4 linked regions of the Homo sapiens genome follow. The protein of the gene in region 4 purifies or fractionates together with the protein of the main gene of each other region. This does not show direct contact. Each region holds a gene or a part of one and is shown on either strand. Other genes may lie near its edges. The genes, in order: FBN2, WDHD1, FERMT2 and GREM2.

The links.
Region 1: the proteins of GREM2 (region 4) and FBN2 purify together in Homo sapiens (affinity purification with mass spectrometry; one large-scale study listed by BioGRID and IntAct). This does not show direct contact.
Region 2: the proteins of GREM2 (region 4) and WDHD1 purify together in Homo sapiens (affinity purification with mass spectrometry; one large-scale study listed by BioGRID and IntAct). This does not show direct contact.
Region 3: the proteins of GREM2 (region 4) and FERMT2 purify together in Homo sapiens (affinity purification with mass spectrometry; one large-scale study listed by BioGRID and IntAct). This does not show direct contact.

What each region holds. Positions count from the first base shown.
Region 1 is NC_000005.10:128,257,426-128,264,187, reverse strand, and holds the end of FBN2 (fibrillin-2 precursor), read left to right. Parts: intron 1-531; coding exon 532-763; intron 764-2,280; coding exon 2,281-2,452; intron 2,453-4,358; coding exon 4,359-4,733; 3' UTR 4,734-6,279; downstream 6,280-6,762.
Region 2 is NC_000014.9:54,941,871-54,949,714, forward strand, and holds part of WDHD1 (WD repeat and HMG-box DNA-binding protein 1), read right to left. Parts: intron 2,601-7,844; coding exon 2,462-2,600; intron 1-2,461. UniProt on the Homo sapiens protein: Core replisome component that acts as a replication initiation factor. Binds directly to the CMG complex and functions as a hub to recruit additional proteins to the replication fork.
Region 3 is NC_000014.9:52,876,200-52,884,043, reverse strand, and holds part of FERMT2 (fermitin family homolog 2), read left to right. Parts: intron 1-2,215; coding exon of another isoform or gene 2,216-2,248; intron 2,249-2,574; coding exon 2,575-2,800; intron 2,801-2,905; coding exon 2,906-3,008; intron 3,009-5,354; coding exon 5,355-5,462; intron 5,463-7,844. UniProt on the Homo sapiens protein: Scaffolding protein that enhances integrin activation mediated by TLN1 and/or TLN2, but activates integrins only weakly by itself. Binds to membranes enriched in phosphoinositides.
Region 4 is NC_000001.11:240,490,994-240,498,837, forward strand, and holds part of GREM2 (gremlin-2 precursor), read right to left. Parts: intron 6,605-7,844; exon of another isoform or gene 6,485-6,604; intron 2,484-6,484; coding exon of another isoform or gene 2,483-2,483; coding exon 1,976-2,482; 3' UTR 1-1,975. UniProt on the Homo sapiens protein: Cytokine that inhibits the activity of BMP2 and BMP4 in a dose-dependent manner, and thereby modulates signaling by BMP family members. Contributes to the regulation of embryonic morphogenesis via BMP family members.

The sequences.
Region 1 (6,762 bases), on a different chromosome or scaffold from region 4:
TATATCATAAACTTCTCTCTTTTAAAGTGTACATGTAAATGGGTTTTGTAGATTCTCACAAAGGTATGCAGTCATCAATACTACCAGTTTCCGAACATTCTCATCACCTCCAAAAGAAACACCATACCCAAGAGCGGTCATTTCCCATTTCTTCCTCCCGACAGGCCCCGGCAACTAATTTTCTCTCTATCTCTAAGGATTTGCCCGAGATATAAGCTTTTGAAGTAACCTTCTGTTAAGAGAATAGAAGAGTTATTCACTAGGCAAACTGCAAATATCTGTTCCCAAGGGCTGCAGACATATTTAGAAACAGTACAAACAGAAAAGAGCAAAGCAAGGGTTTTTTAAAGCCACAATTTAGGGGAATTTTTTTCATTCACGTGCTTTGCAAATCAGTCGTCAGAATAAAATAAAATACTGTGTTAGAGTTATTTCTGCCATAAAATCACAGGCACTTGAGACTCCAGACTTGTTCACGTTTTTGCTCTTGCCTGCTTCCCCGTGTAAGAGTTTCTTTCTTCGTTTCACTAGATGAGAATGAATGCTCCAATCCCAATGCCTGTGGCTCTGCTTCCTGCTACAACACCCTGGGGAGTTACAAGTGCGCCTGCCCCTCGGGGTTCTCCTTCGACCAGTTCTCCAGTGCCTGCCACGACGTGAATGAGTGCTCGTCCTCCAAGAACCCCTGCAATTACGGCTGCTCTAACACGGAGGGGGGCTACCTCTGTGGCTGCCCCCCTGGGTATTACAGAGTGGGACAAGGGTAAGGCGGCCTTCAGCCTCAGCACATAGAGGAATACATGGTTCCTGAGTGAGTTCAGGCCACCCCCCACTGCAGGGAAGAGTACAGTGTCTAAAAGCCAAACCGCAAAAGCATTGATTAGAACTCTTCGGGTATGCAGATAAATACCAAGAAAGCACACACGGACTGTGCTCAGGGTATAGCATTACTTCCTTTGTGATGAGCATAAAACTTGAACTTGTATGTAAATATCACTCTTTGCTCCTCTTATTAAGGGCCTGAATTGATTCAATTTGACCCAAGGCCAGAGACAAACAGATGCTTAAAAATGCGGCTCACACGTTGCCATGGATACCTGGGCTGTGAGGTAGAAGTGGAAATGGCCTTGCCACAGGTTCTTCTACAAATTCTGGAAGGTGCTAGCATAGTGATCACTGAGGAAGGAGTTTGTCCCTTTCTTTGCTCATGTGGCTTTCCTATCGCACAGAGAGAGGATGGTGCCTAGTTGGTGTGGTGTCATTCAGCACGGGCCTGACCCACAAGACAGGCTTCCCTCCAACTAGGCGCACTGTCTCAAGTTCCATGGGCTGTGGCAGAGGTGCTGGCCATTTGCATTCTTCCAGGAAGGCCGTGGTGCTCAGTAACACAGAAGATGGGCATTTAGAGGTCAGTCCAGGTTGCCTTCTTTGAAAGGAGCAGTGTGCAAGGCAGGGACTAAAAGGCATGGACCAAGTCTGTCCAACAATGGTGTATGATAATAGTTAAAACAAAAGGCTTGGTCTACACAAAGGTCATTTAGAGCCAATTCATTGACTCACTAACCAAAATATAAGTTCAGAAATCTCAGTTTTTAAAGCAGGGAGCTTTGTTGCAAGCAGCAAATACAGGCTTCAGGCCCCTGAAACAATGGAACCTGTCTTAGCATTCTCTTTGGAAATTCATACCTTACTTTTACCTTCTGGAGTTAATTATGCTCAGTACTTCAGTCTAACTAAGATTGAAAATTGGGAAAGCATGGGGCTCACCCTCAGAAGAATTTTGCTGTTTCAAAATAAGGGAAAAGTTTATCTATTGTGTGTTAAAGAATTATAGGGGATTGTGGCTCATCCCTGCAATCCCAGTACTTTGGGAGTCCGAGGTAGGAGAATCGCTTGAAGGCAGAAGTTGGAGACCAGCTAGGGCAACATAGCAAGACCCTATCTCTACAAAACATGAAAATTAAAAAAAATTAGTTGGATGTGGTGGTGTGTGCCGGTTGTCCCTGCTAATTTGGAGGCTGAGGCATGAGGAGCTCTTGAGCCCAGAAGTTTGAGGCTGCAGTGAGCAAGATCGTGCCACTGTACTCCAGCTTGGGAAACAGAGCAAGACCCTGTCTCTAAAAGAAAAATAAAAGAGTTGCAAAGAATATTAGGGTTTTATGTTTATGAGTTTAGTGTTTGCTCTGTTGGTTTCGTGTTTCTGAAGAGTCTGCTCTACCACTGGAAAACTATGGTCAAGTCAGTGATAAAGTCTAACAATACTTTGCTTTTTGCAAATAGCCACTGTGTCTCAGGAATGGGATTTAACAAGGGGCAGTACCTGTCACTGGATACAGAGGTCGATGAGGAAAATGCTCTGTCCCCAGAAGCATGCTACGAGTGCAAAATCAACGGCTATTCTAAGAAAGACAGCAGGCAGAAGAGAAGTATTCATGAACCTGATCCCACTGCTGTGAGTATATCCCACTCTGTGTTGCCACAAAATTTTATCCCTACGGAGTCATGTATACAGTGCAGTTCACGTCGTTTTCAGCCTCACTGAAGTTAATCATACCTTGAATTTAATGGATAAATTAATGGACCCAGTATGGAAAAGACAAGTAAATTAAAGTGATTGAATTATTAGATCAAAACACAAAGCTTGGGAGAAAAGACTTTAAGATTCACAGTTTCAGAGCATTTTCTCTTGTTGTAGTTTTTGATTTATGTGGGAGGGTATGTCCATCTCGGGAAGAGCTATTTTTACATGATTCAAAAAATGAAATTATTTTTAATTTGTTCAGTTCTGTTTTATAAATGTATAGCATACAAGGCTGATTTTAATTTTCACTAGGGAAACCAAGTAGGTCTCATATTCTTTGTTTTATTTTTAAGACAGTTGTTCCTTCATTAAGAAGTTTTGTCTTCCAAATCACTTGTATTCTTTAAGGAACTGAAGTTGGAAATTGCGAGCCACTGATATTTCCTTTCCCTAATTGCATTTTGGCAGTGTTTAAAGGGGTGGGCTGCAGACTACCTGGTTTTGAACGTAACTCCCTGGCCCTCCCTATCTGTTACCTCTGTTACATAGTTTGTGTTTATTTAACTTCTCTCAACCTCAGTTTTTTCACCTGTAAGATGGGAATAATAATACCTCTGAAGGCTGATGGAAGGGTTAATTGAATTGAAACATGTGAACTGCCTGGAACAATGCCTGACATATATATCACATGTGTTCAGTTCCTATGAATGATTAATATCTCATATCTAGAGATCTTGATGATTTTCCCAAAGATCTGAGACAGTATGAGGTCGTCACTCACCACTCTCTGCAGTTAATATGACTGAGAAATTACCCCACCAAAAAACCTAATCAACAACTGGCTGGCTGTGTGAATTGGACAACTTGCTTCAGTTTTTTGGGCCTCAGAATCTTTGTCTATATGACCTGACTTGTCTAGCCAAAAAGTTCATGATGCTATTTTATAATAATAAATAAGCCAGTGTTACATTTACCTTAAGTAGACTAAGATACCCAACTGATGTTTGACAGTTGAGATATTCATCAAGTTCCCAAACTACAAATCCAGAAGTTCTGCTTATAAACTTTCCCATTGGGGTACTAGGACATAATTCTGCCTGAACACTGATGGGCACTTCTGGGTCACCACTGCCAAGTCCTCACTTAACAGATGCCCAATCAAAGCATTGTGGTTTTTATCCTATCTTACTTTGATATATTTGTGCTCCTCCCAACCCTCTGAGCAAAAGTCAGACTTGGTTTATCTGGGCCCTGCCCCACTGGCTTTTACCAAAGATGCTGGTTTGAACTGGAGCCCTGAGAACTCTGCAGATCACTCACTCTGTGTACCTCTGATAGCTCCCAGTAAACTCACTCATCATTCACTTACCTTACAAATCAAAGCCCAGCTTTCAGACAGAAGATTCCCCTGGGCGCATTCCCTGCTGATGCCCAACAGCAGTACTTCTTATTTTGACTCCAGAAAAAAAAAAATCATTACCTAAATTTTAGTTTTTAAAAATTATTAATTAGCACAATATTTCATAAACTCATCAAAAAAAACTTGAAATGGGAACACTCTGTAAGCCCAGTCCTGTACCTTTAATTACCTTGTTAAGGCTGAGTGAGAAGTCCTAAAGATTTACAGGGTATTCTCGATGGAATTGGCCTTTTCTTCCAACTGACAAAAATGTACAATAGCCTCTTTCACAGCCACTGCTGGTAAGGAGAGTGCAGAAAGCGGGAGTGGGAAGCCACAGCCTGTCCTCGTGACCAAAGCCCCTGCAGCTGATCTCTTTCTAGTCCTCTGCTTGTGCTGTAGAAGCTTGTCCCAAATCATTTCCTGTTCTTCCTCCAGGTTGAACAGATCAGCCTAGAGAGTGTCGACATGGACAGCCCCGTCAACATGAAGTTCAACCTCTCCCACCTCGGCTCTAAGGAGCACATCCTGGAACTAAGGCCCGCCATCCAGCCCCTCAACAACCACATCCGTTATGTCATCTCTCAAGGGAACGATGACAGCGTCTTCCGCATCCACCAAAGGAATGGGCTCAGCTACTTGCACACGGCCAAGAAGAAGCTCATGCCCGGCACATACACACTGGAAATCACTAGCATCCCTCTCTACAAGAAGAAGGAGCTTAAGAAACTGGAAGAGAGCAATGAGGATGACTACCTCCTAGGGGAGCTTGGGGAGGCTCTCAGAATGAGGCTGCAGATTCAGCTCTATTAACCCTTCACAGACTTGGGCCCAGGCTCAAATCCTAGCACAGCCAGTCTGCAGAAGCATTTGAAAAGTCAAGGACTAATTTTAAAGAGGAAAAATAATAATAACTCTTGTTTCTTTCCTCCCTGTCTTAGACTTTGAATGTTGACCCTCACAGGGAGGGATAATTTAGACTCTGGTATGGCCAAAGATTTGAGCACAAAGGCAACCGTGGTTACTGTATTTTTTATATAACTTCATTTTAAAATATATTAAAAGAAACCTAAATGTTCAAGATATCAGCATATGGCACTAAATGCACAAAAATAATGTGAGCTTTTTTTTTTTTTCCTGTTAGCAGTCTGTAACACTTTGGGTATTTTGCTATAGTTGCTAATTAAAAAAATATAGATGTTTATTTATTTTTAATGCAGTAATATATGGAGAAATGAACAAACTATGTAAACAAAAAGGGAAACTCACTTGTTTTTCTTTAGATTTATAAATTTGAGCTATTTTTTTTAGAGGTGCTTTTTAAAAATCCAATAGATACAAGAGATGTTTCCTTTGGTTTTCTGCCAGTCATCCAGCTGATACACACCTGATGATTTTAAAGAAAGCCACACAGAGCTGAATGGGCAGTGTAATCAATAATTTAAAAAACATGAATGTCATTAGATCCTTTATAACGTAGATCGAAGCCAAAGCAGCTCATTTGTGACAACATTTCATATCACCAGACACACCAGGCAACAGAAGTTGAAGCACAACCACTGTAGCAAAATACCTTGACTGCTTGTGAGACCATTAGCATTGCAGGCCAAACCGTACTGTATTTCCTTCTCATAACCTCAAGGAACCATATGTGCTACCCACAACACCTCATTCTTACCCAGGGTGCGCTGCGTCCTCATGGTACTGTAGGCAGCTGAAGAACCGCCGTTCCCTTGAAAGGGAACACCTGGCATTCTGTGGTGTTTCGTGCTGTCTTAAATAATGGTGCATTTATTATGTTCAAGTTATTTCAGGATTGCCATATGTGCAAACAAATCATGCAATGCAGCCAAGGAATATATGTTGTTGTTGTTGTTTTAAACCCATTTTTTTTTTAGAATTTTCATTAATACTGTAGTTATACACCATATGCCTCATTTTATCATAGCCTATTGTGTATGAAAGATGTTTGTACAATGAATTGATGTTTAGTTTGCTTTAGTCATTTAAAAAGATATTGTACCAGGATGTGCTATTAAGAGCACGTATCCATTATTCTTCTCAACCCAAGAACCTGTTTCCTGGACCAGTGACCAAACCTCATATGTGAAATGGCCAAAGCACATGCAGGCTCCTGGTTGTTCCTCTCAAACCTGTGCTGACCAAAGATTAGTAACCAGTTATACCCAGTATTTTGAGGTTTTATTGTTTTTTTAATAACTAAAAAGAAAAAAGGAACAGTGTAAATTTGTAATCAAGAGTTTGTGAGGAAAAACTTATGGTTTTTGGTTTTGTTTGTTTTTGTAGGTCTGTGTATCAAATATGACACTTTTCTTGCAATAAAGCTTATTTTGGGGTATTTTTCTGACTGAAAATTTTATGAGACCACAACGCCTGTTGTATTTGCGGGAGGGGCTGGGGGCTTTGTCTATGGGAACCTGTATTGAAGTAATAATAGAGAGCCAGACACACAGGAAAATAAAGGAATGCTGGCAAATCTGTGAAGCAAAGTCAACATGTGTTCAACTGATGATTATGATTTGAAGTTACATTCAAATAGAAGGACATAAAGTCATTTACTTATGCATAAATTCTAAGCTTCCTGGGACCCATCTTTCTGGAAACTTCAAAGAATTTCTTCACTTCATGCTAATGCCCCCATAAAGTATCCATGAGGAAGTGAAACATTCTTTTAGAGAATCTTACTTCTCTAAGGTAGAAATTTCCTGAACCCAAGTTTTTAAGCAAAGGTAATAGCGGGCATACCCCAGGCCAAAAGGCATTTTCAAAAATAATCTAAACCTTATCTCTTAAAATGGTATACAGTTTATTCACTGGAGAA
Region 2 (7,844 bases), on a different chromosome or scaffold from region 4:
TTTACACTACTTTTATATCTCAATCTAAGCTTTGCTTATATTAATCATATTAGTTGCAAAATACTATAATTGCAGTACTATTTAAAAATGAAACTTTTGGCCAGGCACGGTGGCTCATGTCTGTAATCCCAGCACTTTGGGAGGCCGAGGTGGGTGGATCACGGGGTCAGGAGACTGAGACCATCCTGGCTAACACAGTGAAACCCCGTCTCTACTAAAAATACAAAAAAATTAGCCGGGCATGGTAGCGGGCGCCTGTAGTCCCAGCTACTTGGGAGGCTGAGGCAGGAGACTAGAGTGAACCCGGGAGGTGGAGCCTGCAGTGAGCTGAGATCACGCCACTGCACTCCAGCCTGGGCGAGAGCAAGACTCCGTCTCAAAAAATAAATAAATAAATAAATAAATAAATAATAAAAATGAAACTTTTTATTCTAAGATAATTGCAGTTTCACATGCAGTTGTATGAAATAATACAGAAAGATCCTGTGTAGCCTTCACCCAGTTTTCCCCAGTGGTAACATTTTGCAAAACTATAGCCCAACAATCACAACTATAGGGAACTGACATTGAAACAATCCCATTTTACTTCTACTCATTTGAGCGTATGTATGTATTTACTTTTATTGTGGGTTGGTTTGTTTACCACCACAGTCAAAATACAGAACCTCTTCCCCAAGCCCCAACTCCGACTCCAACCCCTGGCAACCACTACTCTATTCTCCATCTTGATCATGTTGTCATTTCAGGAATGTTATATAAATGAGTATATATTCTTTGGGGTTTGGTTTTTATTCACTCAGCAAGAGCCAGACAAGGTCCATTCATTTCATCTGTCTCTAAAATCTCTTTTAATCTATAATAGTTCCCCACTCCTACTTTATTTCCCTGGCCATTTCAAGGGCTCTTCAAGCTGTAGAATTTCTCACATTAACAAACTGGATTTAAGTAAATGTTTAGGGTTTACCTTAAAAATACTGATTACATTTTTAAGTATTCAAAAACACAATCACAGACTTTGCCAAGTCTCTTCCTCTTTTGCAGTGTAAAGTCTTATTTATTTAGACGCCATTTTATTGAACAACAAATGAGAAACATAAAATTGTAAATGAGGTTCTAAATGACGCTAAAGGTGTTTAAACCAGTTTCTGGCTTCCTCATTATGCAACACCTTTTTCATAAAACCCAATTTACCAAAGCAAGTATCTACGTTACTAGGTGCCTGTGCTGCGCCCTGCCATTCCTGGGGAAGTGAAACCTGAGGATTTAACTGGTACACCACACACATTCCTTCCACTTCTAACTGAGAGATTGTGCCTTCCTTCCTTCACATGGCAGAAGTTTATCAGAAGCAAGCCAGCCACCTGTCCTAATTTCCATGTGAAAGGCTGGAACAGAACACCAGTCTTTTTCCCAAAAGGAATAGTCTCATGTAGTATTTAATGTGTAAGTAGATACAATTTTTAAAAATTCTGCTTGCAAGAACCCTAAAGTAGTATTCAAAAAATGTGAATTCATTTTTACTTATTAATTTTTTTCCCCCTAGAGACCCGGTCTCACTCTGTCACCCATGCTGGAGTACAGTGACACAATCACGGCTCACTGCAGCCTTGACCTCCTGGGCTCAAGTAAGTGATCTTCCCACCTCAACCTCCTGAGTAACTGGGACTACAGGTGTGTGCCACCATGCCAGGCTAATTTTTAAATTTTTGTAGAGATGGTGTATCACTATGTTGTCTAGGCTGGTCTCAAACTCCTGGGCTCAAGAGATCCTCCTGCCTTGGCCTCCCAAAGTGCTAGGATTACAGGCTTGAGCCAACGAACTCAGCTTGACACTTTTGATTTTTAACAAATGCATCTTTTCTTGGGGTATTCTCCTAACTTAAAACATACAGGAACTTATAGAGATTAAAACAGTAAACCGTCAAAAAATTAACCATCCAGCCTGGGCAACACAGTGAGAGGTTGTCTCTATAAAAAAAAAAAAGAGGACAATTGCTTGTGCCCAGGAGGTCGAGGTGGCAGTGAGCCATGATCACACCACGACACTCCTGCCTGGGTGAAAGAACAAGACCTGCCTCAAACAAAAACAAAACAAAAAACCCATCACCATTACATAATAATTACTACATATCCATATTACCATATATCCGCACTTACTTTCCTCTTTAAAAAGTTTGGTGGATGTATTCAATTTCCAAAAACAGAAAAAGGCTTTTCCTTTTTTTTTTAGTTGTCATGATCGTTATTATCTTTGTTGTTGTTATTATTATTATTAGAGACGATGTCTCACTATGTTGCCCAGGCTGGTCACGAACTCCTGAGCTCAAGTGATCCGCCTCGACCTCCCAATGTGCTAGGATTACAGGCATAAGACACCATACCCAGCCAAAAGGCATTTCTATAAGAATTTTTTAAATCTGGGAATTCACTAAGATCTCAATCTCGGCACAATTATCCTTACCTTTCTTTCTTCAGTTGACAATACTCTAAATCGAATCATTCCTTCTTTTATTATGTCTGCTTCATCTGAAAAGTCAGGATTGTCAGACAAAATATTACTTCTATTTTCTTCTAACCACATCTGGAACCCGGTCTTTGGCCTAAAATCACAATTATGTGAAAACATTTTATACTTAAGACAGAGTTTAAAGTGCCTCATGATTTTAAGTTAGTAATCAACCATAAGTCTCTGACATCTATTATATAAAGTAAGGAAGACACAGTTACACTTGTTAATTCATGTTACTTTTTTTTTTTTTTTTTTTTTGAGACAGAGTCTCACTCTGTCACCCAGCCTGGAGTGCAATGGCGCGATCTCAGCTCACTGCAACCTCCGCCTCCTGGGTTCAAGCGATTCTCCTGCCTCAGCCTCCCAAGTAGCTGGGATTACAGGCATGCGCCACCACACCTGGCTAATTTTTTGCATGGGGTTTCACCATGTTGGTCAGGCTGGTCTCAAACTCCTGACCTCACGTGATCTGCCCGCCTCGGCTTCCCAAACTGCTGGGATTACAGGCATAAGCCACCGTGCCTGGCCTCATATTACTTTAAACTGCCTGGAGACTGCAGGATCAATGAACTGGAAAATCCTTTGTAAGGTCAATTCAAAAGGATCACTCACGTTTGTATTTTCCAAGTGCAGCAACCATGAACTCTGTACTTTCAACTTTTTAATGAATGTTGACAGGCTCAAGGTCTCCAACCTCACTTAGCCCTTGTGGCCTACCACATGTCCTTGGTAGGCTCTTTTTCTATTTCCCCAAACCAGCTATTTGAATTCCTCACGACTTTTCTCAAGCCCCTTTGCCATCGCCTCACCCTTGCTCTCAGAGCTGACCTGCATCAGCATTAGGTGAAGCACGGACACAGCACATTTGTACATTTCATTAGATTCCACTCACAATACAAATTGTCTTTAAGTCACACAAGTGAAGGTTTAATGCAAATATTTAACATTTACTGATCACTTACTATCTACCAGGCACTACTCTAAAAGCTTTATGTATAGTACCTCATTTAAATGACAATAACACTATGAGATGGATACAGTTATTATCTCCATTCCATAAGTGAGAAAAGGGAGGCTCAGAGATGTGAAATAACCTATCCCAGGTTACACAAACAGTAAAACTCAGACCTGGGATCCAACAACCAGGCAATTTGACTCCAAAGTCTATGTTTTTTTGTAGAGATGGAGTCTAGCTCTTTCCCCTATGCTGGAGTACAGTGGCTCTGTATTGGCTTACTGCAACCTCCACCTTCCAGGTTCAAGTGATTCTCCTGCCTCAGCCTCCCAAACAGCTGGGACTACAGGTACGCGCCACCACACCCAGCTAATTTTTGTATTTTTAGTAAAGACAGGGTTTCACCATATTGGCCAGGTGGGTCTCGAACTCCTGACCTCATGATCCACTCGCCTCGGCCTCCCAAAGTGCTGGGATTACAGGCGTGAGCCACTGTGCCTGGCCCAGAGTCTCTTATGTTTAACCCAGCAGCTATACGCCCCTCACTAGGCTGAACCTAAATGAATCCTAAATAAAAAGTCTAAACTTTTTAAGGTTAAAAAAATTTTTATTAAAAAATTACTAGTATGACCATAACCATTTGCCCAATTTCTGAAAATATGCAAATTTTAAGTAATCTTAACGTAAACCGATTTCCAGAAAAATAACAGAACAAATCAAAACAAGTAAAAATCAAGGTATAACAAAGGTTCCTGAATTTCCAAAAATTAATGAAGACCCATTTTAATGAAACTTGGGGCAATGTCACAAGTCTACTTAGTGGCCTGCAATCATCTACTTCTAAACAGCTATTTTTAAAAAGAAAACCAAAATTGAACATTTCTTTCTTTGTTTTTTAAAGAGACGTGAGTCTCACTATGTTGCCTAGGCTGGCCTCAAACTTCTGGGCTTAAGCAACCCTTCTGACTCAACCTTCTGAGTGGCTAGGACTACAAGAGTGCACAGCCACCTGGCTAAAACTGGACATTTCTGATTAAGTATATCAACATCTGTGACAAAATATTAGTTTCAATAGTGGTAATTCCTTAAAATTTCAAAAGTAAGTTTTTTGTATAACCAACTGATAGTATGAAAAATTAAATTATCAATCTTCTTTGTTGTTGTTTTAAGAGAAAGGGTCTTGCTTTGTCGCCCAGGCTGGAGTGCAGTGGTATAATCAGCTCACTGCCACCTCAAATTCCTGGGCTCAAGCAATCCTCCTGCCTCAGACTCTCAAGCAGTTGGGACTACAGGCATGTGCCACCACACACACCTGGCTGATTTTAAAACTTTTGGTAGAGATGGGGTCTCCCTACATTGCCCAGGCTGGTTCCAATCTCCTGGGCTGAAGCTAACTGATCATGTTGGCCTTCCAAAGTGTTAGGCTTGGCCAGGTGTGGTGGCTCACACCTGTAACCCCAGCACTTTGGGAAGCCGAGATGGGCAAATCGCTTGAGGCCAAGAGTTTGAGACCAGCCTGGCCAACGTGGCAAACTCCATCTCTACCAAAAAATAACAAAATTAGTGGGCATGGTGGCACACACCTGTAATCCCAGCTACTCAGGAGGCTGAGGCATGAGAATTGCTTGAACCCAGAAGGTGGAGGTTGCAGTGAGCTGAGATTGCACCAGTGGACTCCAGCCTTGGTGACAGGGCAAGACTGTCTCAAAAAAAGTGTTAGGCGGGCCAGGCATGGTGGCTCACACCTGTAATCCCTGCACTTTGGGAGGCCAAGGCGGGTGGATCACCTGAGGTCAGGAGTTCAAGACCAGCCTGACCAACATGGAGAAACCTCATCTCTACTAAAAATACAAAATTAGTCGGGCATGGTTGCGCATGCCTGTAATCACAGCTACTCAGGAGGCTGAGACAGGAGAATCACTTGAACCCAGAGGCAGAGGTTGCAGTGAGCCGAGATTGTGCCATTGCATTGCAGTCTGGGCAACAAGAGCAAAAAGAAAAAAGTGTTAAGCGGAAAAAAAACCATGAGCCACTATGCCCGGCCTATCAATTTTCTTAAATAAAATTTTCACTGTTTAAGACCTAAATTAAATTCAGAACAAAACAGGAAATGTGAAAACCACAGCCACTCCCTCAAACTGGTTAACATAAAGTCATTAAGAAAATAAGATATACTTTATTATTATTTTTCTCCCTGGACTGTTCAGCATGAGAAAAATGAGATATATTATGGTAAAAATGAAATTGTGACTGTTCTTTTCTTTTTGTTTTTTCTGAGATGGAGTCTCACTCTGTTGCCCAGGCTGGAGTGCAGTGGCACAATCTTGGCTCATTGCAGCCTCCGTCTCCTGTGTTCAAGCGATTCTCCTGCCTCAGCCTCCCAAGTAGCTGGGATTACAGGCATGAGCCACCATACCTGGCAAACTTTTGTATTTTTAATAGAGATGGGGTTTCACCATGTTGGCCAGGCTGGTCTCGAACTCTTGACCTCAAGTGATCCGCCCACCTCAGCCTCCCAAAGTGCTGGGATTACAGGCGTGAGCCACTGTGCCAGGCCAAAATTGTGACTTTTCAAATTTAACGGATATATTAAAAATAAGGCCAGGAGTGGTGGCTCACACCTGTAATTCCAGCACTTTGGGAGGCCAAGGTGGGCAGATCACCTGAGGTCAGGAGTTTGAGACCAGCCTGACCAACATGGAGAAACCTCGTCTCTACTAAAGATACAAAATTAAGCGGTTCCAAGATGGTCGAATAGGAAGAGCTTCAGCCTACAGCTCCCAGCATGAGCGATGCAGAAGACGGGTGATTTCTGCACTTCCAACTGAGGTACCAGGTTCATCTCACTAGGGCTTGTCGGACAGTGGGCGCAGAACAGGGGGTGTGGCACACCGAGTGTGAGCTGAAGCAGGGCAAGGCATCACCTCACCCGGGAAGCGCAAGGGGTCAGAAAATTCCCTTTCCTAGCCAAGCAAAGCTGTGACACACAGCACCTGGAAAATTGGGTCACCCCCACCCTAATACTGTGCTTTTCCAATGGTCTTAGCAAACGGCACACCAGGAGATTATATCCCACTCCTGGCTCAGAGGGTCCCATGCCCATGGAGCCTCACTCATTGCTAGCACAGCAGTCTGAGATTGAACTACAAGGCGGCAGCCTCAGCCAGGAAACTCGAACTGGGTGGAGCCCACTGAAGCTCAAGGAGTCCTGCCTGCCTCTGTGGACTCCACCTCTGGGGGCAGGGCATAGCCGAACAAAGGCAGCAGAAACCTCTACAGATTTAAATGTCCCTGTCTGACAGCTTTGAAGAGAGTAGTGGTTCTCCCAGCACAGAGTTTGAGATCTGAGAATGGACAGACTGCCTCCTCAGTGACAGGTGGGTCCATGATCCACAAGTAGCCTAACTGGGAGGCACCCCCCAGTAGGGGCAGACTGACACCTCACACGGCCGGGTACCCCTCTGAGACGAGGCTTCCAGAGGAATGACCAGGCAGCAACATTTGCTGTTCACCAATATTTGCTGTTCTGCAGCCTCCGCTGCTGATACCCAGGCAGAGTCTGGAGTGGGCCTCCAGCAAACTCCAACAGACCTGCAGCTGAGGGTCCTGACTGTTAGAAGGAAAACTAACAAACAAAAAGGACATCCATACCAAAACCCCATGTGTACGTCACCATCATCAAAGACCAAAGATAGATGAAACCATAAAGATTGGGGAAAAAACAGAGCAAAAAAGCTGAAAATTCTAAAAATCAGAGCACCTCTCCCCCCCCAAAGGAACGCAGCTCCTCACCAGCAACGGAACAAAGCTGGACGGAGAATGACTTTGACGAGTTGAGAGAAGAAGGCTTCAGACGATCAAACCTCTCCGAGCTAAAGGAGGAAGTTCGAACGCATCGCAAAGGAGCTAAAAACCTTGAAAAAAGATTAGACGAATGGCTAACTAGAATAACCAGTGTAGAGAACTCCTCAAATGACCTGATGGAGCTGAAAACCATGGCACGAGAACTACGTGACGAATGCACAAGCCTCAGTAGCCAATTCAATCAACTGGAAGAAAGGGTATCAGTGATCAAAGATCAAATGAATGAAATGAAGCGAGAAGAAAAGTTTAGAGAAAAAAGAGTAAAAAGAAACAAACAAAGCCTCCAAGAAATATGGGACTATGTGAAAAGACCAAATCTACGTTTGTTTGGTGTACCTGAAAGTGACAGGGAGAATGGAACCAAGTTGGAAAACACTCTGCAGGATACTATCCAGGAGAACTTCCCCAACCTAGCAAGGCAGGCCAACATTCAAATTCAGGAAATACAGAGAATGCCACAAAGATACTCCTCGAGAAGAGCAACTCCAAGACACATAATTGTCAGATTCACCAAAG
Region 3 (7,844 bases), on a different chromosome or scaffold from region 4:
TGAATTGCTATAAGGAAATACCTGAGACTTGGTAACTTAGGAGAAAAGAGGTTTAATTGGCTCACAGTTCTGCAGGCTGTCCAGGAAGCATGGTGGCATCAGCTCCTGGGGAGGCCTCAGGAAACTTACAATTACAGCGGAAGGCGGAGGAGGAGCCAGCACTTCACGTGGCTGGAACAGGAGGTAGGGGTGGGAGTGGGGAGGTGCCACACACTTTAAACAACCAGATCTCATGAGAAGTCACTGACTATACAGTACCAAGCGGGGATGGTGCAAAACCATTATGAGAACTCCACCCCTGTGATTCAGTCACCTCCCACCAGGCCCCTCCTCCAACATTGGGGATTACAATTAGACATGCGATTTGGGCAGGGACACTGATCCAAACCATATCAGTGATTTAGGGGGAGTATCTTTTCTATATTAGAAACTTTATAAAGCAAATTGTCCATTCTAACTTGACTCAGTTTTGGATAGAAATTATAATCTCACCAGGTGCACATTTTCAGTATACTGACATTCTTCGTAACAGATTTATTTAATAGATCTTTGAAAGAAACAAGACTTTGCCTAGAAGTTAATGTTTTTTCACACTTTATCTACATGCACACTCTGTAGCAGAAATACCCTTTGCCCAACTGAGTTGGAGTAATGTGTTCAGCACATTTAATAAGTGTGGGGTGCCCAATTAGTCCTTTCAAAAGGTGTCACACAATTTTAAGTTTGAAAAATACCTGTCTAGTTTAAGGATCTAGCTTTTAAAGCCCCAGGACTAACGATCCCAGTATTCTTTAAATGCTGATAAAGAGTTCACAACTTTGCTTTGTGTTTTAGGATTAACAGTGTTCGGATTTTAGAGGGTTTTTTGTTTGTTTGTTTGTTTGTTTGTTTGAGATAGAGTCTTGCTTTGTTGCCTAGACTGGAGTGCATTGATGCAATCTTGGCTCACTGCAGCCTTCGCCTCCCGAATAGCGTGCACCACCACTCCTGGCAAATTTTTGTGTTTTTAGTAGAGACAGGGTTTCTCCATGTTGGCCAGGCTGATCTCGAATTCCTGACCTCAAGTGATTCAACCGCCTCAGCCTCCCAAAGTGCTGAGATTACAGGAGTGAGCCACCACACCTGGCCTAGATTTTACAGGTTTTTTTTAGTACTAACATTGGAAGAACACATGTCAGGGACATAAAATCAAATATCCTGTGTCCAGCAAGAGATTACATATTTTCAGTAAAAACTTTTTTTTTTTAACTTTGCTTCCTAGACTAGGTCATGACAGCTACAAAAATCTCTAGCATTAGCACCACTTTTTCACAGGCAGTGTTTCTATCATTGCATGGGGAGAAGAGTTAAAAATAGTAGGAAAGGAGATGGATTTCTAAGCTTAACCCTAAATTTAGGGAATGGAAAAGCCATTTTCTTTACATTAACAGTGTTATGCCCATTGCACATTTTCTTTTGAAAAATTATGACAACAGGACAAAATATAATTTAACAGAGCTAGGACTTGGGGGAGCTGCTTGTCCTTAATGTCATTCTGAACATTTTTAGATGCCTTAAATTCATCTCCTTAATTTTTGTAGTTTAAATAAAGGAGCACATACCATCTGTTGACTAATGTAACAAATTGTTATTTACGTAACCTCTACTATATGTCTAGCCCTAATACTAAGAAATCAGAAGATAAATAAGGCAATATCCCTTCCTTTTGAGATTTGACTATTAAATATATCTCTGTTTAGACTCTTTCTAGGGCAGACTTTTATCTCCCCTTTTACATTAATACTTTATTTGTTGTACCCCAGAACTTAAAAATTAAAAAAAACTTTATTTGTAAAATTGTTGAAACCTGTTTATTCACTGAGAAGACTTTACTATAAAATTATTCTTAATCTATATGAATTCAGTTCTATTGTGTTACCTTCAAATTGTATGGATTTCAAATGGTGGTAAAAGTTGTAGACATATTTGTCACTATATACTTGACTACAGCACAACTTCATTCTTTTAAATTGAACAAAAAAAACCGTTTTACTTAGGTTGTAGCTTCTAAGGTTCTTTACTCTGAAATCCACTTGAAATGTGTACTTCAGTTTATGATTCACAATTAGGGAAAATCTGTTTTTTCTTTTTCTCATTTTCTTTTCATTCTTTTGTTTCTGTCCTCTGTTGTGGCCTTTCCTTTACCTTCTGAATTCCTTTCTTTCCTTTCCTATAGGCACTGATGTTCTTTACATTGGCCCTCTGAAAGGTGAGCCTTGCCACAATTTAAAGACAAAAAGTGTTGGTCTGTCTGCTTCAGCTATATCCTTATTTTCTAATTCTCTTGAACTGATTTTTTTTCCCCAGAATTTCTGCCAACTTAATTATATTCTTAAGGCTTTATTACGTGTTTTAATGTTATACAAGGAGAATTAATTACACATGTTTTCATAACAGGTAAAATAATATACTAAGCTTTCCTTTCAGAATAAAACTTTTGTTTCACAATGTGCTTTATATCATAATATGTGTTATTATTGAAAAATAAGATGCTGTACTGCATACTTACTACCTGTTTTTCATGTTACTTATTAGGAAGTATATATTCAAGCCCAGGACTGTATAGTAAAACAATGACCCCCACTTATGATGCTCATGATGGAAGCCCCTTGTCACCAACTTCTGCTTGGTTTGGTGACAGTGCTTTGTCAGAAGGCAATCCTGGTATACTTGCTGTCAGTCAACCAATCACGTCACCAGAAATCTTGGCAAAAATGTTCAAGCCTCAAGCTCTTCTTGATAAAGCAAAAATCAACCAAGGGTAAGTTTTAAGATATAGATAAAATTGAATTTCTTCATCCAGCTAGAGGTAGAAATATTGTCTTCATTCTGTGTTGTTTTGTTCCACTGTTCTTAATTTGTCCAGATGGCTTGATTCCTCAAGATCTCTCATGGAACAAGATGTGAAGGAAAATGAGGCCTTGCTGCTCCGATTCAAGTATTACAGCTTTTTTGATTTGAATCCAAAGGTACCGAGGGTTTAAAGGGATCTTTTTTTTTTCCCCATTAATTTGTTTTGTTCACATGGATGTTTGTTTTTGGAAGTCGGTGGAATAAGGAATTATTTGTATATAGGAAATCTTGAATAATTATTAAAAACCCAAACTTTTAGGCAAAGGTATTTGTATTTTAAATAAGTCTATTTTAGTAGGTTGGAAGCATAACTAAACCTTTTTATTGTTGTTATTAAGATAATGAAACTTTTGGCTGATTTGGTTTTATCTTTTTTTTAATCTCTAAGCTCTTAGAGTGTCATGATTTGTATTTTAAAGGTACTCTTTTGGTACTATAGAACTGGCAAAGTTTAGGCCGGGTGCAGTGGCTCAACGCCTGTAATCTCAGCACTTTGAGAACCCAAGGTGGGCGGATCACATGGTCAGGAATTCAAGACCAGCCTGGCCAACATGGTGAAACCCCGTCTCTACTAAAAATACAAAAACTAGCCACGCATGGTGGCACACGCTGGTAATGCCAGCTACTTGGAAGGCTGAGGCAGGAGAATCACTTGAACCTGGAAGACGGAGCTTGCAGTGAGCCGAGATCATGCCACTGCATTCCGGCCTGGGCAACAGGGCAAGACTCCATCTCAAACAAACAAAAAAAAGAATTGGCAAAGTTCATTTTTAAAATATAAGACCTCTCTTCAACTATATTTAAATAAAAGTTTCAAAAAGGTTACCTTTTCAATTACTTTTAGATTACTAATTACGTGCCAAAAGATGTTGCTTCAAAAAAACGTTTTTTTCTTGAGACAGGGTCTCACTCTGTCCTCCAGGCTGGAATGCAGTGGTATGATCATGGCTCACTGTAACCTCAAAGTCCTGGACTCAAGCCATTCTCCCACGTCGCCTCCCAAGTAGCTGGGACTACAGGCTCACCCAGCCACACCTGGCTTTCTTATTTTCTGTAGAGACAGAGTCTCACTATTTCACCCAAGCTGGTCTCAAAACTCCTGGGCTGAAGCCATCCTCCTGCCTCAGCCTCCCAAAGTGCTGGGATTACCGGCCTGAGCCACCATGCTCAGCCAAATTTTTCTTAGGTCTACATTTTTTTCCTCTGTAACAGACAAACACTGTTACTTGTCTTTACTATGATTGGTATTATCTCTGCTACCATAGTACTTCACTTTTCTGGTAAGATTTAACTTTACCATAAATATCTGGAGCTTTTTTCCCCCGTAGAAAACACTTGGCACAGAGGTTTGAATCTTTTACTTCTCTTTCAGCCTGGGGAAAGAAACCTCTCTTGGCTACCCTCTCATCCTTTTCATGTTTAGAGTATAGTCTAGATTTTAATGTTATGTTTACATTCTTTTATTATATGCTTAAGTAATTCTTTATACAACAGTAAAATCTCTATAATAAAATTATAGAAAATAATTTTAATTCATTTTCAGGCCACATCATACCTACTTTTAGTAAAGCCAAAGCTACTTTGGGAATAGTTACATTTGTGAGGGGAATGGAGATGTATTTTGTCAACGTTCTAAAATACATGTTGAGCATTCCTAATTTGAAAATGTAGAATGCTCCAAAAGCTAAGACTTTTGAGGGCTGACATGATGCTGAAAGGATATGCTCATTTTGGATTTTTATGTTAGGGACACTCAACTGGTATAATGGAATATTCCATCATCTATAAAAATTCTAAATTCAACACAGAAGGTCTCAAGCATTCTGGATAAGGGATACTCAATCTGCAGTATTCTTAAGGCATTACTATTGACTTTTATTTATATAATTAAATGGATAATTGAATAACATATAAGTAAACATTTTCCACAAGTATATTTGCCCTGTATTTTGCATACTTAAAATAACTGCCGTTTCCAAGGACTTGCCACTTTATCTGGGTATGCTTCTCCACAGTGAACAAAATGTTCCCCAGAATAATTTGCTTTCTGATTACATGTTTGTATGGCAAGTTGCAGTAATAACACTGAAAAATAATCGGTAGTTCCGCCTTACTTTAATGTCATCAAATTAGATTTCTTATGTTAAAGGCTATAATGTCTAGTGGTTATTTCCCTGAAAAATAACATACAGAATCTACTTTTTAATACTGTACAATCAATTATTCTCTGTCATATTTTAATGTCATTTTTAATGGAAAATTAGATGTGGGCATATATAGGCATGTCTGACCCCATAGGTATCCTTCTAATAATACTTGATTGTAAATAAAAATTCTTGCTTGTAAATTAAGATCCCAGGAAAAAAAGCATTAAATTTTTCTTGTCAATTGAATATTCAGAGTTTGAAATTTTTCAATGGTAAAGGTTATATATTACAAAAGAACTATTTCTCTTGTTGCAGTATGATGCAATCAGAATCAATCAGCTTTACGAGCAGGCCAAATGGGCCATTCTCCTGGAAGAGATTGAATGCACAGAAGAAGAAATGATGATGTTTGCAGCCCTGCAGGTAGTTGAAAGGTCTAGTAAATGGGACTTATTCCGGTAAAGGGTAGGGAGGTATTTTTAAACAGTAAAGTGGAATAGTAATTCCAGTAACATTTCACGAGACAGAATTTTTGCCATGAAGAAAGTGAGTAGACACTTAGGAAAGCAAAACAAATACATTTTAGTTTGATTTTTTATCTTTTCCAAGAGTTCAGTGGTATACTTAAGTACTTTTCTCTATTTTGTAGGAAAAAAATTATCCTATTTTGTAGGAAAAAAATTATCCTCTCACCCCCAAATATAAATCTGCTCAAAGCTCCTCAGTTTTTCCTTGGAAAGAAAATATTTATTAAAAATCAGATTTCTGAAATCTAATCTGAAGCTTACCTGTATAATTTCATAAATAGCCAGGGATGATACAACACACTATAAAATGGGCTGTAGCAAAGCGATGCTTTTAGGTGATAAGATTTAGAGAGACTAGTGGAACCAAACCTTTTTCTACAATGATAATCCTTAAGTAGATAGCTAACATTGTCCTTAGATTAAACCAGTTTTTTCATATGTGGTTCTTACATACCACCTCCTTCAGAATTATAGGGGAGCTTATTTAAAAATTAATTATCCACTTCATGAATAACTTTAAGGTGGCATCCACACATCCACATTCTTACAGATACTGAGGTCTGATGACCAAATTAATTCATCTTTCTTAAATTTCAGATACCCGAGTAATGCTTTGGCAAGTATTCCCAGTTATGACGGGATTCTAGGTTCAGCCTAAAGTCCTGATGAAGTTGGTGTTCTATAAATAACAGAAGTACAGGAAGCAGAGTTGACATTCAGTTGAAGAACTTTTCACTGTAGAAGGGATTTTGTTTTTCCTTAGAACACAAACAAAAATGCTCTCAGTCTTCCAAATGCCTCCTTTATGCATCCAGAAAAGTTTTCAGTTGTGACCCAAAAAGTTGACATTAGAAAGCAAGAATGGGGAGTGAGGTTAGCAAAAAAAAAAAAAAAAAAAAAAAAGCAAGAACAGCTAATTTTCACCTTAGTTTTACATAATGAAAGGAGTGGCAAAGAAGCATAGACAAGGAAAATAAATCCCAGGTGACAGATGGATTAATCAGTTATTTTCTAGGAACTTGATTAATGAGCCAGTTAGGATCCCGTATTGTGTTTCCAGATAATTCTGACTCTCTGGTGAATTTCTTGAATTAAATTCTGGAGCAGTTTGTTGGGAGTCCCCTCACGTGGTTATGGCTTTCTTCCTGCATCCTCCTCACTTTGATACAGGCTTATGATTTTCTAGTGGAGGTTTTGCCAATGATAGAATAATAATACCTGTAAAATATGTGTGAAAGACCACAGATTTTATACTGTTGCTTTATTTTTGTATTAAAAAATAGTACATGTTTATGGTTATTGTTTTTAAAACCAACAGATGCCTATTATATGCCTGGCACATAGTAGGTGCTCAAAACGTGTTTGTAAAATGAGAGTACACACAGTTGTGTTCTCACAGGAATGGCATGATTCTGCAGCCCACCTCCCCGAGTGTATCTTGGGCATTCCATATCACTACAGAAGGAACACCTCAGAGACCACAGGTTTTAATTCATGGAAATGGAATGGTCTCAAACCATAGCCCTCCAAGACCATTTTAGAATCTAGATATAATGAGAGTATTTTGACATACAGATTTGAGTTGTTGGAGGCTTTCTCAGAGACTGACCCTAAGGTTGTAGGAAGCCAACTAGTACCAGAATAAGGAAACTGTGAAAGTATGGTGAGGAGGAGATGCCTAGAATTTTTTCTTTCAGAGAGAACCTATACTCCGAAGTATACTCTCCTTGGGACATCTGGATCCTTGTGTAAAGTAAATTTACAATAGTAAAAAGAAGCAGAATAATACAAAACAAGAAGGTGGGGATAAAAAGTAAAGTAGATGAATTAGTAACATTGTTTTTAAAGCATTTAAGTCAGAGTATGTATTAAGAAATTTAAGATATCCCTTGCACTTTTGAAAGCAAAGCTGGATTTTTTAAGTCCCATTCACAGCCAGGATTTCTCCGGTATGACTCATAAAGACATTTTGCATCAGAATTACCCAGAGCAGTGAGTAAAAATGCAGATTCCAGGCTGGACCCCAGACTTCCTGAATCAGGATCTCTGGAGTAAACCTAAGGATCTGTATTTTTGACCAATTCTTCACCAGACTCTTAATATACTCTGACATTTGGGACCTGAGGGCCTCAACCTCTACCTCATTTCCCATAATTTATGAACATTGACATTTCTACAATTGTAAGATCTCATTTCAGCACAATTGAAGTAGTCAGAGACTATTCATTACCAATCAATCACTAAATCTTAAAACACAGAACATTGGTAAGTGGCCTCA
Region 4 (7,844 bases):
GCTCTATCCTCAGGTTCCAGCCCTCAAGGATTTCTTTTGATTTCTGCCTCCTGAGTTCAGGCTGTATATACCCATTTATGAAACCAAGACCCCCTCTGCCACAGCACATTCTTGCTCAGGTCTCATGGTGTTGCAGAAATGACAGAAATGCACCTTGCAGTGCAGTGGCCTGAGATAGATTCACCAACCCACCCCACCCCAATCCTTGCTCTTCAAGTGAATGTCTCTAGATCCACCATCACTACCTAGTATCAGGAAGCTAAGTCCCCACAGCGGCTTGCAGAGGGTCTCTCTCACATACTAGGGAAGTGGCCCCTCACAGGAGCACTTACCAGGGAATCATCAGTGAAAGGTTTTCAAAGTTTACTGATTCCCACCAATGGCAGCTCATTCACATTTGTCAGATTCCATAAGCATTACTCACAGGGAAGCCTTCCTGGGGCAACTGAGCAAAGGAGCCCAGAAGAAGTATATAATTTCGCTGGAAAATAAGTTACGTCTACTTCCGTATATCAAGAGACCACAGCATGGAAACGTCAACAATTCATTATAAACACAAAAGGTGACCTAATGTTTGTTCGTCCCTTTTGAAGTCTATTCTTTGAAAAGGAAGCATGTTTTGTGCAGAACAGTTCAACTAGATTACTATTCTATATCTTTTATTCCTTACTCCCTTCTATACCACAAAGCGACTCAACTCCTTATATTTTTCAATATCCCTCTCTTTTTCTCTTTCTTTTAACAGGAAATATTTTTTGCCTAGTGTCATGGCAGTGAAAGTAGTATACGGTTTCACCCCACATATGCATATTCCACATTATAGGGGCTTTCTAGTTTCCGGTCATCAATTTCCCAACGAATGCCCTTCCCTATACCTATCCATCCCAAGCCAATTTCTACATTGTGCTGCAATGCTTAGTAACGTCAGTGAAATAGTATTCAAAGTAAAAATCACGACTCCTCCCATCTCCCTGCCCAATCTAAAAATAGGTGCATGACAGTGAATTGCTGACCAGGCATTTTTTTTTCTGAGTAAGACACCTTCTGGGCCTGCTGTCATCCTTACTCCGAATGGTGCTGCAAGCCAGAGTCAAAACATGTGAAATAATACATGAATAGGTCTATAATACTTTTTAACAGCTCTTTACAATATACGGTCACTTATAAAACCAGCGTTAATATAGAGACCTTTGTGTGTGATAATATTCTAATTGCAGCAATAATAGCATGCACACCAGAGTTCATCTTTAGTCCACAAATAGGGGGCGGGGACAGTGAGGAAGAAGAGGCGGTGGGGACTTGAGGATGGGGGATTGTGTAGCCTGCTCTGCTCGAGGTTTCCCGGGAAGCCCACTTCGGGATCCAAGTGGCTCAAGTTGTCTTCTTGGTATCAGGTTTATTAGGAGACGCCCCGTCCACCGACATATTTATGGAGGTTGCACATATCCTCATCACAGCAGCGACCGAGGGCAGCCTGCCAGTCACAAGAATGAGCGCTCCCAGCCAGAGGTCCAGGGACCAGCAGGAGAGGTCTGAGGGGCCGCTCAGAAAAGTGACGCATCCTTCACTTCGCGCGGGAAAGGGGCGAGCTGGAGTGCAGGGCGGGGCCAGGGAAATCCTTGCTTTTCCACATGGTGGAAACATCAATGCCGGATTTACAGTGCATCACCTCGAAAGGTCCTCTCTGACTGCTGGGTGGCGGTGGTGGTTTTCCAGCATTTTCCTTCGGGCCTGATCCACCGCCTGGTTTAGGGGGCACAGGTGGGACCCGGGGTCGGTCAGGAACACATCAGCAAAAGCTCCACTTGCGATCCACGTCTGTGACAAGGACACCGTCAGCCCTAAGAGAAGTGCTTGCTGCTGAGGGGGAACACCAGGCAGCGTGACAGTGGGCTCGGAGGGCAGGGACAGAGGCGGCGGCGGCGCCACCCAGCGGCCGGGCGCGCGCGGGGCTGAGCTGCGTCCGGCCCGGCGCTCACTGCTTGTCCGAGTCGCTCAGGTTCACGGACATGCACCGGCACTGCTTCACCTTCTGGATTTTCTTGAGTCGGAAGGGTGGGTCCAGGCCGGGGCACTCGAGCTCCACGAGGACGGAGGTGACGCGCTGGGGCTTGCAGAAGGCGCAGGACTGGAAGGACTCCTCCTCCTTCTTCACGTGCCGCGGGATGTAGAAGGAGTTGCACTGGCCGTAGCAGAAGCGGTTGAGGATGGTGCGGCTCCGGCAGCCCTCCTCGCTCACCGTCTGCCGCAGCGGCTGCGTCTTGCACCAGTCACTCTTGAGGTACTTGCGCTCGGTGACCACCAGGGCCTCCTGGCTGGAGGCCAGCACCTCCTTGATCTGGTGCTGCCATCTCTCCGAGTTGTTGCTGCTGCCGTCCTTGTAAGGCGAGGGGATGGCGCCCGCCGGCCGGTTCTTCCGGGCTTCCGCCACCTTCACCAGCACCGCCACCAGGAACAAGGACAGGGAAAGCTTCCAGAACATCCTGCAAACGAGAAAAGAGAGGGGCTGGCTGTGAAGGGCCGTAGAGTACGGGATCAATCTTACTTATTTTTTTTTTTATTTTAGACATGGTCTGGCTCTGTTGCCCAGGCTGGAGTGCAGGGGCACGTAGCTTGCTGCAGGCTCAAACTCTGGGATCCTCCTGCCTCAGCCTCCTGTGTGGCTAGAACTACAGGCTTGCACCACCACGCCCATCTACTTTCTTTTTATTTTTTTTTGTAGAGACGGGATCTCACCATGTTACCCAGGCTGGTCTGGAACTCCTGGCCTCAAGCGCTCCTCTGCCTCAGCCTCCCAAAGCCCTGGGATCATAGGCGTGAGCCACCACGTCTTTTTAATGCTGTACGGTTTTACTAGCAGTGACAGTCAGGTGGGGCATGGCAGACTGATGGCTGCCCAGGGGCAGCTGGAGGTGAAAAGGGATTAAATGGTACAAGTGTAGGCAGTTAGGACTGCACCCCAAATAATGCCTGGAAGGCAAGGAGGCGGACAAAATGGCCAGTAACTTATGCAGTAAATGCAGTTAGAAAACACGCGTGTTGAACAGTTACAGAAGTACAAAGCAAATGCTGGGAAGAGAGACCTCAAGCCAGTTTGCAGAAGTACCAATAATAGTTAATACTCAATATTTACAGTGTTTTACTTTGTGCCAAGTGCTGTCCTAAGAGTACATCTCATTTACATGTATATCTCATTTCATCCTAAAAATAGCCTTCAGTTGGAGGTGGTATTATGACCCCTTTACAGTGAAGGGGTCACTTTACAGTGAAGGAAACTGAGGCTGGGGCCCACAGAAGTTGAGTCATTTACCTGAGGTCACACAACCACTAAACAATGGCCCAGGATTTGAAGCCAGCCAGACATCTACCTCCAGAGCCATCAATGTTAACCAGCAGACATGGATGTGATTACAAAAATTAGTAAGTACAAAGTAGAGAGAAGATGGGTGTCGTTCACAAGTTTCTTTAAAAATGAGTATTAAAGATAGAACTGGACATAGGCTAGAAAAATTACTAGTTGCATCTGTATTATTACATATGAATAATAACATTAGCATTTAACATCTGCACACAGATGTTCAAATCATTCAAATGAGTCATAAATTAGAGTCTCCTAGTAGAAACTAATTCCCAGGTGTGAATTAAGAAATTTCCCTAGCTGACTTTGGGAGGCCGAGGCAGGCGGATCACGAGGTCAGGAGATCGAGACCATCCTGGCTAACACGGTGAAACCCTGTCTCTACTAAAAATACAAAAAATTAGCCAGGCGTGGTGGCGGGCGCCTGTAGTCCCAGCTACTTGGGAGGCTGAGGCAGGAGAATGGCGTGAACCCGGGAGGCGGAGCTTGCAATGAGCCGAGATGGCGTCACTGTATTCCAGCCTGTGCGACAGAGTGAGACTCCGGCTCAGAAAAAAAAATAAGAATAAAAAAATAGAAATTTCCCTAGCTGTATTAAAACTGTCTGATGACAATGCAAAGTGTCATCTCATTTGTATTAGGAGACTATGACACAAATTCAATAGGAATGAGAATTGGACAGAAATTATTCTCATGCTATCTAAAACGTGGCTTGCAGGGCACAAGCCAAAGTCTGACTAAAGTGAAAGATAGACTTCAAAGTGTAATTCACATTTTAAATTTTTGTATTTTTAGTAGTAGCCCCAAGGAACACTAATACCCAGCAATATTGAGGACTCTGATCTCTTTTTACAACGGTAGCTACCAATGTAGCTGTTACCAACATCATCATCATCTTTATGTTTACTCATTTTCTGTTTTACCTTCTCTAGGACTCCATGAATTCCCATTCTTTTAACATGTATACCCTAAAATGGACATGTAACAATTATATATACATCATATGTATCATATAGTAATATAGTATATATCAGTTGTTATATTTATCAATCATGAGTATATAGAAATAACTAAAATTGAATATTAAATATGTTAAATGTTTGAATTTTTTACGTCTTAAATATATCCATGCTAATGGTAATAGCAAATATTTATTGATTCTCAAAGTACATCAAACACTTACAGTTTACTTTCATGTATAGACGTATTTAATGATCTGAGTTCTATGAAGTAGGTACTATTATTTTCTTCATTTTATGGATGAGGACACTAAGGCATTGACAGGCTGCCAAGATTCTATAGCCAGTATGTGAAATATTTGAATCCAGGCATCCCGGCTCCAGAATCTGAGCTCTGGGTGAGTATAGCTGCCTCTTTGTTAAAAATATTTACGTTAAAATATCTATGCTAAAATTATTTCTCTGAGTCTTAGTCTAAGTCTAAACCACAAGAGGCCTTTGCATGCCACCTTGGAGATGATTCCTTTATTCATCAAGTATCCATGGAACGTTTATTCTGGAGTAAGCACTGTCATAGGCTTTGTGAATTCCAGTATCTTAGAGAATAAGGCAAAGGTTTTTTTTGTTTTTGTTTTTGTTTTTTTTTTGATGGAGTCTCACTCTGTCACCAGGCTGGAATGCAGTGGCACGATCTCAGCTCACTGCAACCTCTGCCTCCCAAGTTCAAGCAATTCTCCTGCCTCAGCCTCCCAAGTAGCTGAGATTACAGGCGCGCGCCACCAGGCCCAGCTAATTTTTGTATTTTTAGTAGAGACAGGGTTTCACTATGTTGGCCAGGCTGGTCTCGAACTCCTGACCTCAAGTGATCTGCCGGTCTCGGCCTCCCAAAGTGCTGGGATTACAGGCCACTGGGCCAGGCTAAGGCAAAGTTCTCACAGGGTCGGACGAGCCTTTACAAGATCTCCCCACTCCCCTGCATCTCACCAGCCTCCTCCGTCCTCTCTCCCACTTGCTCACTCTGCTCCAGCCATACTGGAAATAGCCTATCTGTTTCTAGAATGAGCTTGGCATTCTTGTGCTCTAGAGCCTTACCTTGTCTTTCTCCCAAATGTCTACTTGGCCTTCTTCCTCACAGTCTTCAACTCTTTGCTCGGTTACCACCTCTGTAGCGAAGGCTTAGAGTTACCTTCACCACCATCGTGGACGTCACCGTCTCCTCCTTCCCTGCTTTATCTTCCTCCAGGGAACTTATCATCTAACGAGATAGTATTTCATAATCACACTTGTCTTTCTTGTCTGACTTTTCTCCTGGGAATGTAAGGTCCAAGAGAGAAGACCTGCCTGTTTTGTTCATTGCCATGTCTCCTGCTCTCAGAACAGTGCCTGGTGTACAGTAGGCACTCAATAAATGTGTTAAGGCCAGGCTCAGCGGCTCATGCCTGTAATCCCAGCACTTTGGGAGGCCAAGGTGGGCGGATCCCCTGATGTCAGGAGTTTGAGACCAGCCTGGCCAAAATGGTGAAACCCCGTCTCTACTAAAAATACAAAAAAATTAGCTGGGCGTGGTGGCACACACCTGTAGTCCCAGTAGTCCCAGCTACTCAGGAGGGTGAGGCAGGAGAATCGCTTGAACCCGGGAGGCAGAGGTTGCAGTGAGCCAAGATCATGCCATTGCACTCCAGCCTGGGCAACAAGAGTGAAACTCCATCTCAAAAAAAAAAAATGTTGAACGAAATATGGATACTATACAGGTCATTGCCTTCAACAAGTCTGTAATTAAGAAGCCAGAGAAAGGCATGCACGTGACTGCGTGACAAAGGTATTTAGGAAGAATGGCCTGGGTCCTTGTGGTAGTGATCCTGTGACCAACGACATCTGAATCACCTGTGGTACTTTACAGTGCACATTCCTGGGCTCAAGAAGCATTCTTTTTAAAAAAAGTTTTAATTAAATTTCTTTTTAATTTTTAATGTTTGTGGGTACATAATAGGTATATATATTTATGGAGTACATGAGATCTTTTGATACAGGCCCCAAAGCATTCTGGGTCAGTAGTGTTGGGGTGGGGTTTCAGATCTGTATTTCTAAAAATTGCCTCACCCAATTCTGGTGGGATCCAATGGCCACAAAGTATAGTGAGGGCGAAAGGGAAAAGCATCGGTTCTACCTGGAGAAGGAGCAGGAGGAGCTTAGGAAGTCACAAGTAAGTGGGTCCCTTGAAATCTGAACAGGATTCCTCAGGGCGATGATATGGGCAAAAGCAAAGGGTTTGGTACTGTCGATGACGCTGGGCAAAGGGAGTAAAAAAAAAAAATTGAAAGCAGAAAGGAGAAAAAAAAAGTTTTTTTTTTTTTGCAAAAACATTTTGTCCAGCACAATTATTAAAATTTTAACGCCTCATTTTTAAAGGGTTTTTCTCATGCCTCCTTAGTTGCACACATGAAATGTCATATGAAAATGGCCACGCTTCCAGCTGGCTCAGGCCAAGTGTCAAGTATTGGACTCGCTCAGCTTACATAGCTTATTATATTTGTGGAATGATTTGTGATCTCAATAGCCTCTTAAAAAGAAAGTATTTTGGTTCCATTTTAATAATTTCCGAAATTATTAACATTCTGAGTAAACATAACCAAGAGTTTGCAAGTCCCAGCCAGGAAAGATTGACAGAGTCAGTCTGGTCCTCAATTCCTAGTTCCAGTAACAGCTTCACATGCATGGCTGATAGACTCAAAAATGCACGCTTTCCTTCAACAGGTCCTAGATCTTATCAGAGAGAACAGAGCTAAGACAGAGCTGACAGAGCTAAATCAGATCAATTTGAGGCAAAACCTCTTAGGGCCAATAGTATTAGATGTGGTGCTGGGCATTCTTTGAACTCATTAACATGTTTTCAAAACATCTGGCAATCATCCTTAGAAGTTAGGTCTCACGGGAAGCTAAGCAAAAATGCAAACCTTCAACTTTCAGGAAGGGGGAAAAGTGGTTGAGGAAATCTCGATGACTGGGGCGAAGTCAGTCTCTTCTCTTTTTCCTTTCCTACATCTCATTTCTTTTCTCCTTCACACATAGCAATAGTAAGATGGCCAAGGATCTGGCATCTCACTGTCAGACAGGTAAGTAGGCAAGAGGTGTTCGGCCATGGTGACCCACAGTGACTGTGAGGCTGTATCCTCCTACTTCAGAGCATTCAGGCAGTTGAGCCAGCAACTGCTAACGGCACCTACACTGCTGGCCCTTGGCTGTGCAGAGTTCACCAGGGGAGAGAACGTCCGTTCTCTTGCTTGCCTCTGTCCGTTCGCTCATCATCCCTGCACAAGCATGTCAGCGGCCCCGCCAGGAGCTGAATTTAGCACTTTATAGAAAGTCCCACTCTGTCCTGAACCACTTTGCTAATCAGAAAAATGGTTGGCACACAATTAACCTTTCAGGAATGTTGCCACCCCTGCCGGTAACGACAGCACGAGGATACTTCATTTTATTCTCACATCTTGTATTTGGCTTGTATCAGAAGAAACTCATAAATAAAT